Linked DNA regions of Homo sapiens: region 2 is linked to region 1. The links come from fine-mapping of genetic effects on gene expression. Tissue or cell type: whole blood. Region 1 holds a variant in brackets; the other region holds the start of a gene. All regions are shown on one strand. Distances are between the middles of the regions.

Evidence for each region. PIP is the estimated chance that this variant, and not a neighbour inherited with it, causes the effect.
Region 2: it holds the start of GLUL, and the variant in region 1 is fine-mapped to the expression of GLUL in whole blood (TOPMed, PIP above 0.99).

Annotation. Positions count from the first base shown.
Region 1 is chr1:182,230,923-182,239,031 of GRCh38, forward strand. The region is part of intron 2 of LINC01344 (long intergenic non-protein coding RNA 1344); the gene reads right to left. Among named protein-coding and RNA genes, the nearest start is that of LINC01344, 79 kb to the right of the region's middle. The variant A/C (reference allele first, on the strand shown) is at 4,868.
Region 2 is chr1:182,387,432-182,395,540 of GRCh38, forward strand. GLUL (glutamate-ammonia ligase) reads right to left here and starts at 4,359. Exons shown (of 7, transcript NM_001033044.4): 1 at 4,248-4,359; 2 at 1,141-1,319. The coding sequence starts at 1,306. RefSeq lists a silencer at 4,095-4,774.

The DNA of each region.
Region 1 (8,109 bases):
ATGAGGTATCTTTGTAGTGATGGAAATGTTCTGTATCTTTTCTTCTTTCTTTTTTTTTTTTTTGAAACGAAGTCTTGCCGTGTCACCCAGCCTGGGTGCAGTGGTGCAATCATGGCTCACTGCAGCCTCGACCTCCTGGGCTCAAGCCATCCTCCCACCTCAGCCTCCCAAAGTGCCAGGATTACAGGCATGAGCCACTGTGCCTGGCCTGTTCTGTATCTTGACTGTGCCAATGTCAATATCCTGGTTGTGATATTATTCTATAATTTTGCAAGATGTTACCACGGGAGGAAACTGGATAAGTGATACAAAGGATCTCTCTATAATATTTCTTACATCTGCACATTAATTGGCAATTATCTAAAATAAAAATTCAGTTAAAAAAATTTTTTTTGTAAATTGGGAGCGTGGGTGGAGGATACAGGTAGGGGAGTAGGAGGAGAGTGAATAATCTAGATAAGCTTCCCATGAAACATTCATCCTAAAGAAGAAAGCAGGCACGGTACCATCGACCTCTCAGACTGAAGCATCCAAGGCAGCAGGAACTGTGCCCATCTTCTTCGTCACTGGATTGCGAGTGCTTCAAACTACACTGATGTATCGGGGATTAAGACAAGAGTTCCTCTCTACCCAAATAGTAGCATTAAGAGATTAAGGAACAATGAGTTGTCCCACTCTGCTTGATTCCTCAGTTTTGAGCAACAAAGAATTCATCCAAAATATGCACTTGACTCCATTTGGTTCCTGAGTTGACTAAGAAACTGACAGAGACTGAGAGGGTAGGAATAAAGCCCCAGAGGAAAGATACTGAGTGGAACTTTACAGAATTGCATGGCTGTTAAATGCATCCATCCCAAGCCCTCCCCCTGGAGAGATAAAAACTGACCTAGGTGTCTGAGTTAACCTCTCTCACATTGGAATCATGTTAACACTGCTCTGGGAGCCTCTAACAAAGTGTAATTCCATGAAGAGAGAGCCACTCTCTCCTGTTCTGCCATAGACCACCAAATAACCTTGACATCCCGGGGAATGGAAGTGAATGCTACCAGAAAAAGGGTGGGGCCTGTGGCTACAGGAAAGAGGACTGCTCTAGGGAGGTGATGGCCACATAGTGGGGTCTGGGCAGTGATCCAGGGCAGTATGACATTCATCAGGGCCCCAGAACCAGGGAAGCCATCGGAAGGGAAACTTATTCCTGAGCACACACGTGAAATACCTCTTGGGGACTCCGAGGACCAATCAAGAGGGAATTTGCAGGAGACTGAGCAGGCAGAAACCAGAATCAGGTAATTGGGACATTAGAGTTTTTTTTTAAATTGATGTTGCTATATACAATATTGCTCCTAATTTTCACTGGAGATTTAGATTTGGGATCAGAAGACCCCAACCCCAAGCTTCAGGCTTTTTGTCTTTTACACTGGCATGGTAATGTCTGCTCTGCCTACTTCGCAAGGCTGTTACTTTTTTTTTTTTTTTTTTTTTTTAAGATACAGGGTCCTGCCGTGTTGCCCAGGCTGGAGTGCAGTGGCTATTCATAGCACACCACAGCCTAGAACTTCTGGGCTCAAATGATCTTCCTACTTCAGCCTCCCAAGTAGCTGGGACTTTAGGAGCATGTCACAGCACCCAGCTTTAGACTATTACTTTGAGAATTACATGAAATAATATAGGTGAGAAAGCTTTTGAAATCAGCAAATACTATTTGAATGTGATTTTTGATATCATTATCTTACAAATGCTTCATTATCTCCACTGTTACTTCCCTCCTATCATCTTTTCTTCTGAAGGCTTAATAATTTCTAAGCCCCCTTTTTGTGCCCTCTATAAAACACTGTGGTATTTGAGGTCCTGTGTGTCCTGAAACTATTTTGAGGTGCACATATGTGGTGGTCTTTACCTTTCTGAAATCATTTAACAGTTGTCCTGGGACCAGAATCTTCTGCAATTCCTTGGCCCCATGCCCAGGGCTCTGCTAAGGGTCTGAACATGGGCATGGGGCTAAATGTGGAGAGAGGAGCCAGTTACCCAGGGGCTAGAAATTAGAAAATGTGCTCAAGGTTTAGGCTCCTTGTATTAGTCCGTTTTATAACTGCTATAAAGAGCTGTCCAAGACTGGGTAATTTATAAAGAAAAGAGGTTTAACAGACTCACAGTTCAGCATGGCTCGGGAGGCCTCACAGAAAACATGCAATCATAGCGGAAGACGAAGGAGAAGAAATGTACCTTCTTCACCAGACTGCAGAAAGGAGAGCAATGGAGGAAGATCCCCTTATAAAACCATCAGATCTCGTGAGAACTCACTCACTATCACGAGAACAACATGGGGGAAACCACCCATATGATTCAATTACCTCCACCTGGTCTCTCCCTTGACACCTGGGGATTATGGGAATTCTAATTCAAGCTGAGATTTGGGTGGGTACATAAAACCTAACCACATCACTCCTGATGGTCCAATTCATAAAATTTTACAAGACCATTACCTGGAAATTAGGGGGTGGTAGCAAACCCTGAAAATGAGGGAGCTGAGAGGCAAGAAATCAGAGGCCCTACATCTGGAACCACCTCCTCCACAGGACCCTGCTTCTACTTCCAGAGCTGATGCCACAGGTTGGGACTTCCTGCTCCAGGTTCCAGCCAGGGAAACAGAGCCAGCTCCTCACACATGCTTCAGGTAGGCAGAGGAAGAGCAAAAAAGAGACCCCCATACCTTTTATTCCAGCAGCTCTGGGGAAAGGTTTACTTTCAAGGAAAATAGGGAAATGCACTAATTCAGAGTCATCAATTAACTCCGTCACTTACAAGATGTGGGACTCTGGCTTCAACCTACTCCTCTGAAACAGGAATAGTGTGCCTATTCAAAATATCTTGCAGGCAGCAGATCAAACAATCGGTTGTATCTTTTTTTAAAAAATCAGTTGAGAGTTAAAAAACAAAACAACTAAAAATTGTTTTGTAAATTTCAAGCATACAAATGCAAAGGATATGTATTTCCTATAGCCTAGGATCTCCAGGTCCCTAATAAGGGAGGCCAGCTATGATTGTTTGCTGGGATGCATGTTTCATTTAGAGATGCAGCTGAATAAGTCTTGGTTTTTTTTTGGTTTGTTTGTTTGTTTGTTTTTTCAGTATTAAAAGACCTTTCAGGCCAGGCGTGGTGGCTCAAACCTGTAATCCCAGCACTTTGGGAGCCCGAGGCAGGTGGATCATGATGTCAGGGGTTCAAGACTAGCCTGGCCAAGATGGTGAAACCCCGTCTCTACTAAAAATACAGAAATTAGTTGGGCATGGTGGTGGGCGCCTGTAATCCCAGCAACTCGGGAGGCTGAGGCAGGCAATTGCTTGAACCCGGGAAGCAGAGGTTGCACTGAACCGAGATCGTGCCACTGCACTCCAGCCTGGGTGACAGAGCAAGACTCCTTCTCAAAACAAACAAACAAACAAACAAACAAACAAACAAAAAACCTTTCAGAAACACATTGGTACTCCTAAGCTTTTACATATGTTCATAAGCCTTTAAATTAGGGTGGAGGAAAAATTATCTCAATTCCTGAAAAGATAGACATTAAAAGGAACCACCAAATAAAGGCAAACCCATTTTCCAGGTGCTAGAAAAGGGTGAGGAGTGGTACAATCTATGCAAGGCCAGGTGTGTGAGAAAACCATGGTACCTGAAAGCCTGGGTAAAAGAGCTGAGAATAGGATACAAAGGGTTCAGCCCCCCAGGTAGCCAAATGCCGCTGCAGGCTAGGGCTCCCTCCCTCCCTCCCTCCCTCCCTGCTTCGCTTTCTCCCTCCCTCTCTCCTTTTTCCCTTTCTTTCTTCCTTCTGTGGAGTTCCTAAATCATGGTTTCTTGAGAAACAGGATATTGGAGCTTCAAGGCAGAGGTCCCCAACATCTTAAGGAGCCTGGAGGTCATGATTCCTTGCCAAGGTGGGAATCACACTCCATCTTGGACTTCCGAGGCTAGGCAGAGTTAGGCATTTTCTCATCTGGGCTCCATAGGCCTGGGCCCACAGTTTTTTTCAGCATCTCTCTCACTGCACTGTAGCCATTTATTCACCAGAATGCATCCTTCCTGACCTGCGAGCTCTTCCAGAGCATGAACAGAGGAGTATAATGGTTTGGCACCCCGCCTTTGGTGCCAGAGAAACCTAGGTTCACACTCTGATTAGACCCTTCAGGGGCTGTGTGATTTTTCTGGGAGAATGAAATTAGATACCATCTATAAAAATCTGGACTTATGGTATAACCAATATGTGGCAGCTGCTATTACTTTAACTTGTTCTTCTGTATACAAATAATAATAGCTTTATCTGTTAGGATTCAGTGCAGGAAACAGAAATTGCTTCACTTACATTGAGTAGGAAGGGATTTAGTCAAGGGATAATGTGCTTGCAAAACGGTTAGAAGGGCTGAAGGAGCAGGTTCTAGGCTGGGGCTCACAAAGCAGTATAGAAATTAACCACCACCTCTAGGGCACCTCTGGAGCTGTGCTGGAATCCAGAAGTGACTGCTGCCTCTGCTACAATTCCTGCCTCTCGATACCCAAGAAGCTGGAGAATGGACTCTGGAACTCTGATGCAGAAAAACCTCCTATTTCCCCAGCTTTGCTGGCCAGCAAAATGGCTACAAAGGGGTGCAGCTTCTGCTTTGCACATCTTGCACTGAGTGCCTCTACTTGGCAGAAGACAGCTTGCTTCTAGAACCCCGACTGCAAAGGAGCCTTGGAATCATGGTGCTCAGCTTTCCAACTTCACCCAGCAAGAGGCAGGAATGAAGGTTGAGTGACCATCCACACCACAGCTGGCACTTTCAGCTGTCATTGGCCTCACAGCACCACAGTTAGGTAAGTGCCCATTTCACA[A/C]ATGAGGAAGCAGAGCCTTCAGGAAGTTACCTTGTCTGCCCCGGGTCACAGAGGAAGGGGTGAAGAAGCAATGTAAACAGGTTCTATCTTAATCAAAGTCTATGCCCTTAACTACCATTTTTTCTAATCCTCCCTGCATCTTGAATGCCTAACTCTGCATGTGGCCACACCTACTGAATGAATGTTAGAGTTCATTCATCATGAGTTTAAACAGAAAATTACACCAACTTAGAATGCTGTGGCCTAGAGAAAGTGTCTTTACCTCCTGAGTGCGACCCAAGTCAGGAGGCAGGAGGCTGACTGAGGGACACGGAGGAGGTATGCACACTCACAGCATGAGGCAGAGCTGTGTGCACACATCAAGCAAGGAAATGGGGCCGGAATATGGGGCAAAGGCCTACGGATTGAATGGTGGATTTGGATGTGGGCCACTTCTTCCAGCCCCTGAAAGAGGACCAGGCAATGTGGCTATGAATGGGCCTAATGAGAATTGATTGATTCGCTCGAGATGTTTTCTTTTTCTTCCTAAAATAGAAAATGACATACCCCATGATTCATGCACTCCGGTGCCCGTGATAATGGCCTCTTCAGTGCACTGACTCTGCTGATAACCACAGGCACTCATCCTCCGCAGAGGGGTTGTGTGCCACACCCTAGGCACATAGCAACCCTGCAGGCTGTCAGACACCTGCCGCAGAGAGTGCTTTCCACACGCTCTCTGGGACATGAGGCACAGTTCCCAGGAGTGCCTGAGAAATCTCAGTTGCCTGGCATAGATGCTAAGGCCTGAGAGAAGAGCCCAGAGTCTAGGCCTGAGGGGCTGCAGTCTGCACACAGGAGTTAACTCATACACATATACAACCCACAAAGCCACACACATACATAGCACAAATACACACACAGATAGACACAGCACACACAGACACATACATCACACACACACAGACACAAACATGCACACTACACACATGCACAGCCCACATAAACACCCACAGAGTTGCAAATATACACAGCACAAATACACACACAAATAGACCACACGCAGAGAGACACATCACACATACACACAGATACAAATATACACACCACACACAAACACAGAGAGACACACACACCACACATACAACACACACAAACATACACACTACACACATACACAACCCAATAAACACCCACAGAGCCACAAACATATGTAACACAAATACACAGAGAGACACACCATGCAAAGACCCAGAGAAACACCATATACCACACATATGCACACACAAACGTGCACACCCAACACATCACCACGTGCAACACATACACCATACACGGAAACACATGAAGACACTTACGTACACCACACACACATATACACACACAGACACAAACATACGCAGCGCACACACACCACACACATACGCAGGCTCATGCACATACTCTACAAAAAGTGCCTCACTACAGGACAGCCATATCCTAAAAGGCTTAAAATAATGGTTATATGGCCTACAAACGCAGAAGGTGTGTATACAAACCAGTAAAAGAAATGAAAGAAAGCATCAAAAATGGTAAATACACGAAGATAAAATCCCTGTTGAAATGCACGCATGATATTTATTGGGATTGGAGGACAATTCAGGCAACACAAATAATTGATATTTAGTAATCTTTGGATTGTTCCTTGTGAACTTATTCAGTTGAACAGCACATTTTTTCAAGTGGCTGCCCTTTAGCCCCTGTACACTCACTGTGTGGCCACTGACTTACACCCACTGGGCATCTGCCAAGTCCCTACCTCATCTCCCTCCCTTCCAAATGTACCTGTCTGGGGACAGCCCTGCAGAGCCCCTGCAGCGCCTGTTTGATGATAGAGCTTGCCACCCAGTCCCTCTCATTCTTCCAAGCTCCTTTCCTGCCCAAGTCAGGAAAGTCCCACAGTTCTTGTCTCATAGTACACACAGGGAAGTTCAGGGATTTGGTGCTAACTTTAGTTAGACCCCGGCTTCCCAGAGCCCTGATTTCTTCCAGGGCTATAGCAGTTTATCTCTGTGTGCCCAGGGGGTGCTCAGGCCCAGGAATTGTGAATATTAGATGTTCCCTTTAGTATTTCTAAGATCCTATAGGGAAGAGTGGGAAATTGAAGTTAAGGGACAACTAGCAGGTGAGAATGACAGCTGGGGATTATTGACCAAGAAGGAAAGGATGGGCTGGTTGTAAATATACCTTCAAGACCCATTATCTTACTGAACTTGAAAGCTAGAGGGGAATGTACAGAGACCATCAGCTATAACCCCTTCATCTTCCAGATGTAGAATCTGAGGCCAGAAGAGTGAAACAATATGTCTAAAGTCAAAACCAATTAATTAGAAGCGACTCTGTGATCGCAAATGTAGAATTCTTCCCTAATGGAGCACTGGTTACCATTTTCTATTTTCTGATTCTATGGTATTATTTCACCGACTTGATGTATGGACCAAGATATTATTCTGGATTTGAGATTTTATTAGAGAAGCTAACAAAGTAAACATACTTTATTTAGGACTTTCCATTTTATTAGATGAATATTATATTCCTCTTTTCCTAAAGCAGGAGATGCTTATGTTGGACAACCAACTTTTATATAATATAATATAGAATATATATAATTTTATATATAACATAATATAGAATATTATTATTTCATTTAACATTTAAATAGTCCTGCCAGGTGGATACTACACATTTTATAATCAAGAGAGGAACAGTAGTTCTGGGAACGTGATTAAAGATGAATGAAGATCAACCCACTCAAGTTGGTCTGGCTTCCATGTCATGGAATTTCTGCATTGCCACTCTGCTTTGCAAGCTTAGGAGACACCTGCTGTGGTTTGAATGTTCATCCCCTCAAAACTCTTGTTAGCCTGAGTAGAGGGCACCCTGCACTCACTCTCCTGCCACCACAGTTGGCAACTTTTAGGAGCATATTCTTGCTCTACTGTGGTTGATTTGTATTTTGTTTTTCCTTCTTTGTTTTTCCTTTCCTATAATATAATATAATATAATATAATATAATATAATATAATATAGAATATTATATAAAAGGCACAACACAAGTTGGTTGTCCAACACAAACATCTCCTGCTTTAAGAAAGTTCAAAATAGAAAAATAATAAAAGTATGATTGCCTCATTACAAAATATATTTTATAGTAGGGTTTTTGTTTTTTGAAAAGATGTTCCCACTACATATTTCAACTCTGAAGTTTTCAGGGATAACTCAAG
Region 2 (8,109 bases), 160 kb after region 1:
TAATATGTATACCCTGGCACCTGTACCTGATCTTATAGCCCTTCCTATTTGAGTTCCAAGTAAGACCATTGTACCAATTCCTTAAAAGAAATATATCAGATACTCCCTTCCCAAATGTCTTCCAGGAGACAAGCTGAAGCATTCTGTTATCACTACCATCCTATCAATCACTTAAAATATTGAGATAGTGAAGGATTCTGATTCTTCCATTAGGTAATGTGTTGCATCCTTCTTATGCCCCCAGTGTATTCTGGCAAGTTATGTCCTTATTTTATAGATGAGGGAACAGACGACTAGCAGGATGACTTACTCTAGGATGCTCCCTTATCACCTATCCACCTTTCCCACTGTTTTGAAGGCTGCTTGGTCTCTCTAGCTGACTGAGTTCTCTGAAGGCAGAGACGAGACTCTCACTTTGTATCTTCAGTGTCTGTGCACTATCATCTGCCACATAGCAAGTACACAATATAGGCTTTGTATTATGATCATTCACTTACTCAAAAAGGAAAAGTAAACTACCCTAAACTAGGTAGGATATGATACTTTCCTCTGGCCCCTTTCCAGAAGAGGGAAGACTATGGCTTGTTCTAGACTGAAAAATGAAGGTCACAACTATAATCTAACTGTAGCTCCTAGAGGGATACGCAATTAGTTTAAGAATTTCCAAAAGTGGCATCAACTAAAAATTAGTCCTATTTAAAAACCATTGTAGAGCATTTGCTTCACATCTAGAAGCCAGTGATATGAGTATTAAACACAGTTTTCTAAGAGTTTGTAAACTAGATGGCATTCTCAGGTTAGAGCAGTGGTTTTCTGAGGGTGCCTTAGAGCCAGCTAAGTGGGGATGTCCAGGTCGGCAACCTCTAAGCCCCATGCCAACTCTCCATAAACCAGACTTAGTTTTTCTTCAATACACTGGCCTACGTGCACAATTCCATTGAAATAAAGGGTTCCATCGTCGCTCTGCTTTGAGGCAGTGTAGGAGCTTAATGTTGACTGAATAAAGTCTGAAAAGCCCTGCCTTAGAAAACCTTTACAAACAGAAGAAAGAGGCCTAATCCAGAGGCTGAGTCAAAGGCTGCTGCCCACCCCTCTGCAGATCCCACCCAGCATGTGCTCCACTCCACATTGCTGTCTCACCTTCCACACACTTGGGCTCACTGTCCAGGGTCCGGGTCTTGCAGCGCAGTCCTTCTCCAGTACCATCGATCCAGATATACATGGCCTGGACTTTCTCACCCTGAGGCAGGGACATGTACACCTGCTTGATGCCTTTATTTAAGTGGGAACTTGCTGAGGTGGTCATGGTGGAAGGTGTTCTGGAGAAGAAAAAAAGAATAACATTGTTAACGCCCACTCCAAACTGATCCCCTGCAAAAATGGCTCAAGAAGGACGACTGAATCAAAAGTCAGAGTGTAAGTGCCAACTCCTTCCCTTGTGGAAGTCAACACACAAAAAGTTATGTTTACTCACTCTTTCAGGGGGATTAGTTTTATAGTAGGCAAAAATCTCCTTTATAATAGGCTGTAAAACTGATCACCACCTTTTGAAACAATTAACACAGATGCCTGCTAAAGAAAAGATCAGGCCCTTGGTAGTAACTCAATGCCTCTGCATCCCTGAGCTCACAGGCTTAAGTTCCACAGCTACTGCAGAACCCAGGCTTCCAAGCTAGAACTTATACTTGTGAGGACTAAGGTCTATTCCTTCAGTGTAGCTGAGGTTAACACTAAACTATCCAAATACTAAACTATCAGAGGAAACAAATCAAAACCAATACACAAATTTACAAAACATAGAACTTCTTCCAATATAAGTAAAATCCAGCCACAGAACAGGCTTGGCTTCCACAGTTTGTTTTTCTCTTTGTCTTTCATCCTAGCTGTGGTCTTAACTCAAACCCACCGCCCCTCCCCACCAAAAGAAAACTCATTACACATTTAGATTTGAGGATGAAACAAGGTTACAATATATTTTTTTAGAAGGCTAGCAGTTTCCTACACAAAAGCTGATTCAAGCCAGATTCTAAGGGGAATGCTGCCATAATTTCCATAGGTCTCATGCAAAGTCTCACTTAAGATAGTGGGCAAGAATCACAACATTATGGAATTCTACAAGACTTGTCAAGTAATTAGGAAATTTCCACTTCTAAATCAAAAAGATCTGGAAATTTAAAAGCCATGAGGCATACTAATAACTGCCAGCCACTACCACAAAACCTCCGAAAGAAGAGAAACTCTCAAGCCACAACAGCCGAAGAGGAAACATTCTCTCTCTCCCTCCTCCCTCCGTGGACCAGGGTGGCTAGAAAGGGAACACATTGTTCTCCTCCAACGACTAGGGCAACGTTCTGAAGTACAGTGGCAAAGTTTCTACGGGCAACCGTCCATGTTTGCCCAGCTGAAAACATAACTGCTTCTCCCTCAGCCTCACCACCCTTCCCCTTGGGGAAGACCAACACCCCAATATTGCCTCTAGAAGACTCAGCCGGCCAAATCCTACTTCCCACCTCCATCCCAGAACCCTTTAGCTCCCGCTAAAAGCTACAACCCACCGAAGCGGGCAGATCACCTGAGGTACAAAGTTCGAGACCAGCCTGGCCAACACGATGAAACTCCCGTCTCTACTAAAAATACAAAAATTAGCCGGGCGTGGTTGTGCACGCCTGTAATCCCAGCTACTCGGGAGGCTGACACAGGAGAATCGCCTGAACCCCAGAGGCAGAGGTTGCAGTGAGCCGGGAGATTGCACCACTGCACTCCAACCTGGGTAACAGATAGAGACTCTGTCGGAAAACAAAAAAAAAAAACCTACAACCCAATTTCTCGGCTGTCCTCTCCAACATGTTACACCACCAATATCATGCACACTTTGTCCTAAGCCTCAGTTTCGGATCTCTTGCTCTTTTCCGTGAGCCGAGTTGCATGCCAGCAGCCTAGTGCCACTCTATCAACTGCTGCTGCTGCGGTGCCAAGTTTACGTGGGGGAAATGGATTCTGAAGTTTTCAGCAGTTTCTGCAGCTCCCACCAACTCCGGGGTCGTCCTCCCTGCCCCCTCACTCACCCCAGCCACAGAAAGTCAAGCGTATCGTTAGGGTTGCCCTCTTTAACCCTTCTCTTTTTGGAGTGGCGTTCGCGCCTCTCCTCTTTCTCAGACTCTAGCTGGTCCAAGCACCGGAGCTTTCTGGGAGAGGGCGATGGAGAAGGGGACAGACAGCGGCCGGCCCGGGGGGTGTCCGAACAGGCAGGTTGGTGGGTTAAGGTCTTAATCTTGACTCGAGATCTCTCCCCGGAGTTCACAGAGTAGGCGACGAAGCCGAAGCAGCTGGAGCGCGACCCGGAGGAGTCTGACTTCTCGTTGTCTTCATAATTTTCATTCGTTGCTTTCTTCGTGGACTTGCGGCTGGGGGAGGATCCCCGCTTCCCGCCCCCGAGGGAGTTATAATTATCCACTTTGAGAGCAGCCCCTTCCCACTGAAATGTCCCTAAAGTGGGCGCCCTGCCCCTCGGGCCCCCGTCCGAATCTCAGGGCCTCACGGAGGTGGCCATACCCTGCCGCCGAGGGGTTGGGGGGTCCGGGGGAGGGTGGGGGCGCAGGCCGTAGGGACTGCGCGCTGCTGCTGCCTCCGCCCGGACCGGCTTCTCCACTGACTGCGCCGAGGCCCGGGCTCTCCATTGTTCGGTCACATTGGAAGGCCCCCGGGACCCCGAGGCGGGAGCCGGCCGCCCAAACAACGCTCACCGTTACACGCCGCAATCGAGGCGTCTCAACCATCGCCAGAACCAGGACGATTGCTCCGAAGGCCCCACCACGAGGAAGGCAGCCAGGCGCCCGCGCCAACCAAGCGCCTTGTTTGCGCTCCACAGGGGACCGCACCGCCACTCCATCCACAGCGCAAACAAACCACTGCGAGCCCCAGGGCGCAGGCCGGCCCAACGGCCTCCAGGGGCGGCGCTTCGGCCGCAAGTAGTGAAAAGAAGATCAAAACAACTCACCCCGCCCTTCCCAGAGCCTGGCCAAGGGCGCGCCCCACCAGCGCCAGCCCCGACGGGTCCAAGCCACCAGCGGCGGAAGCACGCGGGAGGAGCACTCATGCCGGATCTCAGGCATGGGCCGGAGAGGCCGCAGCGTAGGGCTGGGACTGGAGGGGCAGGCAGCCGAAAAAAGAGGCTGGGCGGCGCGCCTCGCGGGGTAGCAGGGGCGGCGCGCCTCGCTTGCGTGACACCGGGCCGTCCGGGGGCTTACCTGGTCGCCGAGCAGGCGGGCGGGTAAAGCTAGGCCGCGAGAGCGAGGTTAGGAGAGGAGAGGAGGCCGCAGTACTGCTCACACGCTCCGCTCTTCTCCCACTCTCGACTCTGCAGAGCCGCCAGCAGCCCCGCACCCTTTATCCGCGGCCCGGGGCCGCCCCCGGTGCCCTGATTGGCTCCCAGCGGCCAGGAGCCCGGGCCGATCAGCTGATGCGGTCCCGGGCCCCGCGGCCATTGGGCGAGGAGCCCGGCGGGCGCCGCTGGGGTGGGGGCAAGCGAACTGGGAAAGAAAGAAAGAAAGAGAAAGGGGCGTGGGGGAGGGGCAGGGCGGCGTGGGGGAAGGGAGCGGAGCCGGGAGGGCTGAGGGCAGAGGGGCGAGTTGCCGCCAGGCCGGGAAGCCTCGGCTCGCCGCCCACCCGCCAGCTCGCCAGGTGCCGCCCCACGGCCCCCAACCCGGGGTCCCGAGGCTCCCAGCAAAGCCCGCCCTGGACCTCTGCCCTGCCGCCTTCACGGGGAATAGTTTTACGAGGAGAGCTCCCTGGGGAAATGCGGAACCAGGGAAACCGAATTTAGCCTTTTGTTGCGAGGGAGCCTCCGAGCCCCGCTTCCTGCGGGCAGGGGTTAGCTTGAGAGGGAGCGCGGGGCGCGGGACCCGAGGGAACTTTGGGCGGGCCTGGGCTAGGGCGGGTGCCGCGCGGGCCTGGGGACAGGCCGGGGTTCCCAAGGCCTGGAAGAGCCGCCCGCTCCGGCTCTCTTGGGTCTGGGGAAATAAACAGAACTCTGCCATTTCACATTTGAAATCAACGTGCTGTTTCTCTAATTTTACAGAGAGGATTCTGGAGGGCGGTAGAAACTAAGTCTGGAGACCTGTCTCATACTGCTGGCCAGACCCTAGGCAGGTCTTTCAGGGCCCAAGTTTCCTCATCTGCAAAATAAAGTGGTCATCGAAAATGACCTGTGGAGCCGCCCACTAGATTTGAAATTCTGTGTGCAAACTGCCCCCGGAGCAGCTGAAAGGAAATCGAGGTGTTCACTTGCCCCCTTTGAAGTCCAGGGATTGTCAAGAAATTCCTTTAACGAATTCTCCCTGATTTTGCTTTATCAAGTGCGGCTTCTTGTTAATCTGGAAAATGGGAATACATACCTCTCCTCTCAGCTTGCCGTGATGGTTGGGAAAATGTGTATGTGAACACAATATTGAAATGTACCTAGAGACACAACATAGGTAGGTAGGTAGGTAGGTAGGTAGATACTGCTATCCGTACTATTACTCGATCATTCTATTTTTAGTGCCTGAAATCTACCTGATGGTGTCCAGATTTTATTGCTTCTTTCAGTTTAAAGAGCAAGAATTTATGCTTCCAGTGCCTTTGGAAGAGGAAGGGAAGAAGTTTGTTCTGGTTATGTTTTGTACCGCAAATGTGGAAAAGAAATGTTGCCTGCAACCACACACACATAACTTGGCTTCTTTGGTCAACATCCCTTTCCTTTAAGAGTGTATAACACTGTAGTGCTTTTACATGACAGATGCAGCATTCATCTCAAACAGGGTTTTTTGGGATGTTTCAGACTGGTGACATTTTGGATTGGGTAAGGTGCCTTACAAATTCCTTGTTAAATTTCAGTGCTGCCCCTTGAAGCATTACATTGTGGTGGCTAAAGGCACGGCTGCAAGTCAGGTAAACCTAGGTTCAAATCTGGGCTTTCCCTTCATACCAGCTTTGTGTTGGCCAAATCACTTAGCCACATGAAGCCTGTTTCTTTGTCTATAATAAAAGAGGGATAATCATTTTTACCTCATAAAAGGATTAATTGTGATAGCACATGCAGAAGAGATTGAGTAGTCCTTGGTGCATCGTAAATGTTTAGAAAACAGCAATTATAATTATCATAGGCCAAGTTCTATAATCTGAGGTGATTGGATTCTTTCTTTCCCCATAGCGACTTTTGAATACAACTTTTCTGACTCAGTGTAATGCTTTACCATTCATTATATCAAACTGGACTTAACCTTGGTAACACAGTGAGCTGTCTTCATCTCTTTCTGTAAAGGTTTGAGTTTAAATGGTCGAGGAAGGGGAGCAAAGGAGGAGAAAAGTGATATTTTTATTTTAAAAGATGTTATTAATCATTTCCAGATACCAAACTACCGAACCATAAGCCAGAGCCTCTGCTGCACACACCACCAGCCCCTGAGGTGGGGATGACAAACATAACAGAGAACGGAATGGTAAGGCGTGAGTGCGGTTCTGCAGGCTTATGGTATTTCTGCCATTTGAGTGCCTGCTTCCCTTCCTAGATGTCTTGACCTCATTGAGCAGTTTATTCATTGTCATATCCCCCAGTAGTGTCCACGGTGAGTGTTCAATAAATGATATTTGTTAACCACACAGAAGTGACAGCAGCACCATCAAGAGAACATGTGCTTTGAGCTGCTTTTCCAAGAATGGAAATGGATTTGCTTTGATCCATTCATGTGACCAGGGGCACGCTTTGTAAGGGTTAGGAACATAATACATGACCACTGACTCTTTCAGGAGTGAACAAGAGGCCTTGTCCTCCTTGGCCAGCCCCACATTTACTTAAAATGATGAAATTAGGGCGCAGATGAGTCCAAGAACTGACCAGGGAGGCTTGAGCATAGGCGAGAAGTAAAAGCAGAAGAAAACCCTTAACTGGTTCACCCGCAGAAACCCAGACTGTACTTTTAGAGAAGTTAAAAGTAAAACAGCCTGTTTCATCCAGTTTGACTTTGCTGTGTCTGCTGCCCTTTCTTCTCCTTCCCCTTCTTCCCTAAATTGCCACCCGCCCCCATTCTTCACCCCCACCATAAAAAGAGCATTAGAATGCTTGAACCCATGAACTTTTCTGTTTCTTGGTACACACCATATCAGTGCTGACAAGGGGTTCCATTGCATGTGCTTTGAAGTCATATTTTTCTCTCTTAGAGTAGAATTGCCATGTCCAAGGGGTGGGTGGAGTGGGAGAGCAATTACAGGGAAAGATTTTGTTCCAAATCTGCAGAAATAGCCTGAGATTAAAAGTATTTCTTCAATGTTGTTCTGCTGCCTGAAATAAAAGCTTTGTATTAGGATTTTGCTCTACTCCCAAATCTTATCTCTATTAGGAAACAACTTTTCTCTTTTTTTTTTTTTTTTTTTTTTTTTTTTTTGAGACGGAGTCTTACTCTGTTGCTCAGGCTGGATGCAGTGGCGCAATCTCGGCTCACTGCAACCTCCACTCACTGTAACCTCTGCCTCCCGGGTTCAAGCAATTCTCCTGCCTCAGCCTCCCAAGGAGCTGGGATTACAGGCGTGTGCCACCACACCCAGCTAATTTTTTGGTATTTTTAGTAGAGACGAGGTTTCACCATATTGGCCAGACTTGTCTTGAACTCCTGACCTTGTGATCCGCCTGCCTCGGCCTCCCAAAGTGCTGCGATTACAGGCGTGAGCCACTGTGCCCGGCCCTTTCTCTGTCTTTTAAAGGATCCATTCTCACTCTGCAAGTATGAAGTCCTTTACCTGGGGATCTGGAGTGCCTTCCCAGGGCCTGTGTGGTTGCCTTATACACATTAGACACAAAATTTAGGGTAGGGCTCACATTGACCAAACCTTTTCTGTTTAGGAAATGGAGTTTTCCCTGTGTATGAATGATTTCAATAGGCATTCAGTGAGACCTTTAAATCATGTTAAAGAGATACAATTGAGACTCAGGGTTGGGGAACACCCTGGAAACCCAACCCAGAATTGTAAAATATTCTTTTAAAAATTATTATTATGTAATAAACCAACATCAGTTCTTTCCAAAAGAATGGACCATAGTAGAATCTTAAACCAAATCAAAATAATAATAATAAA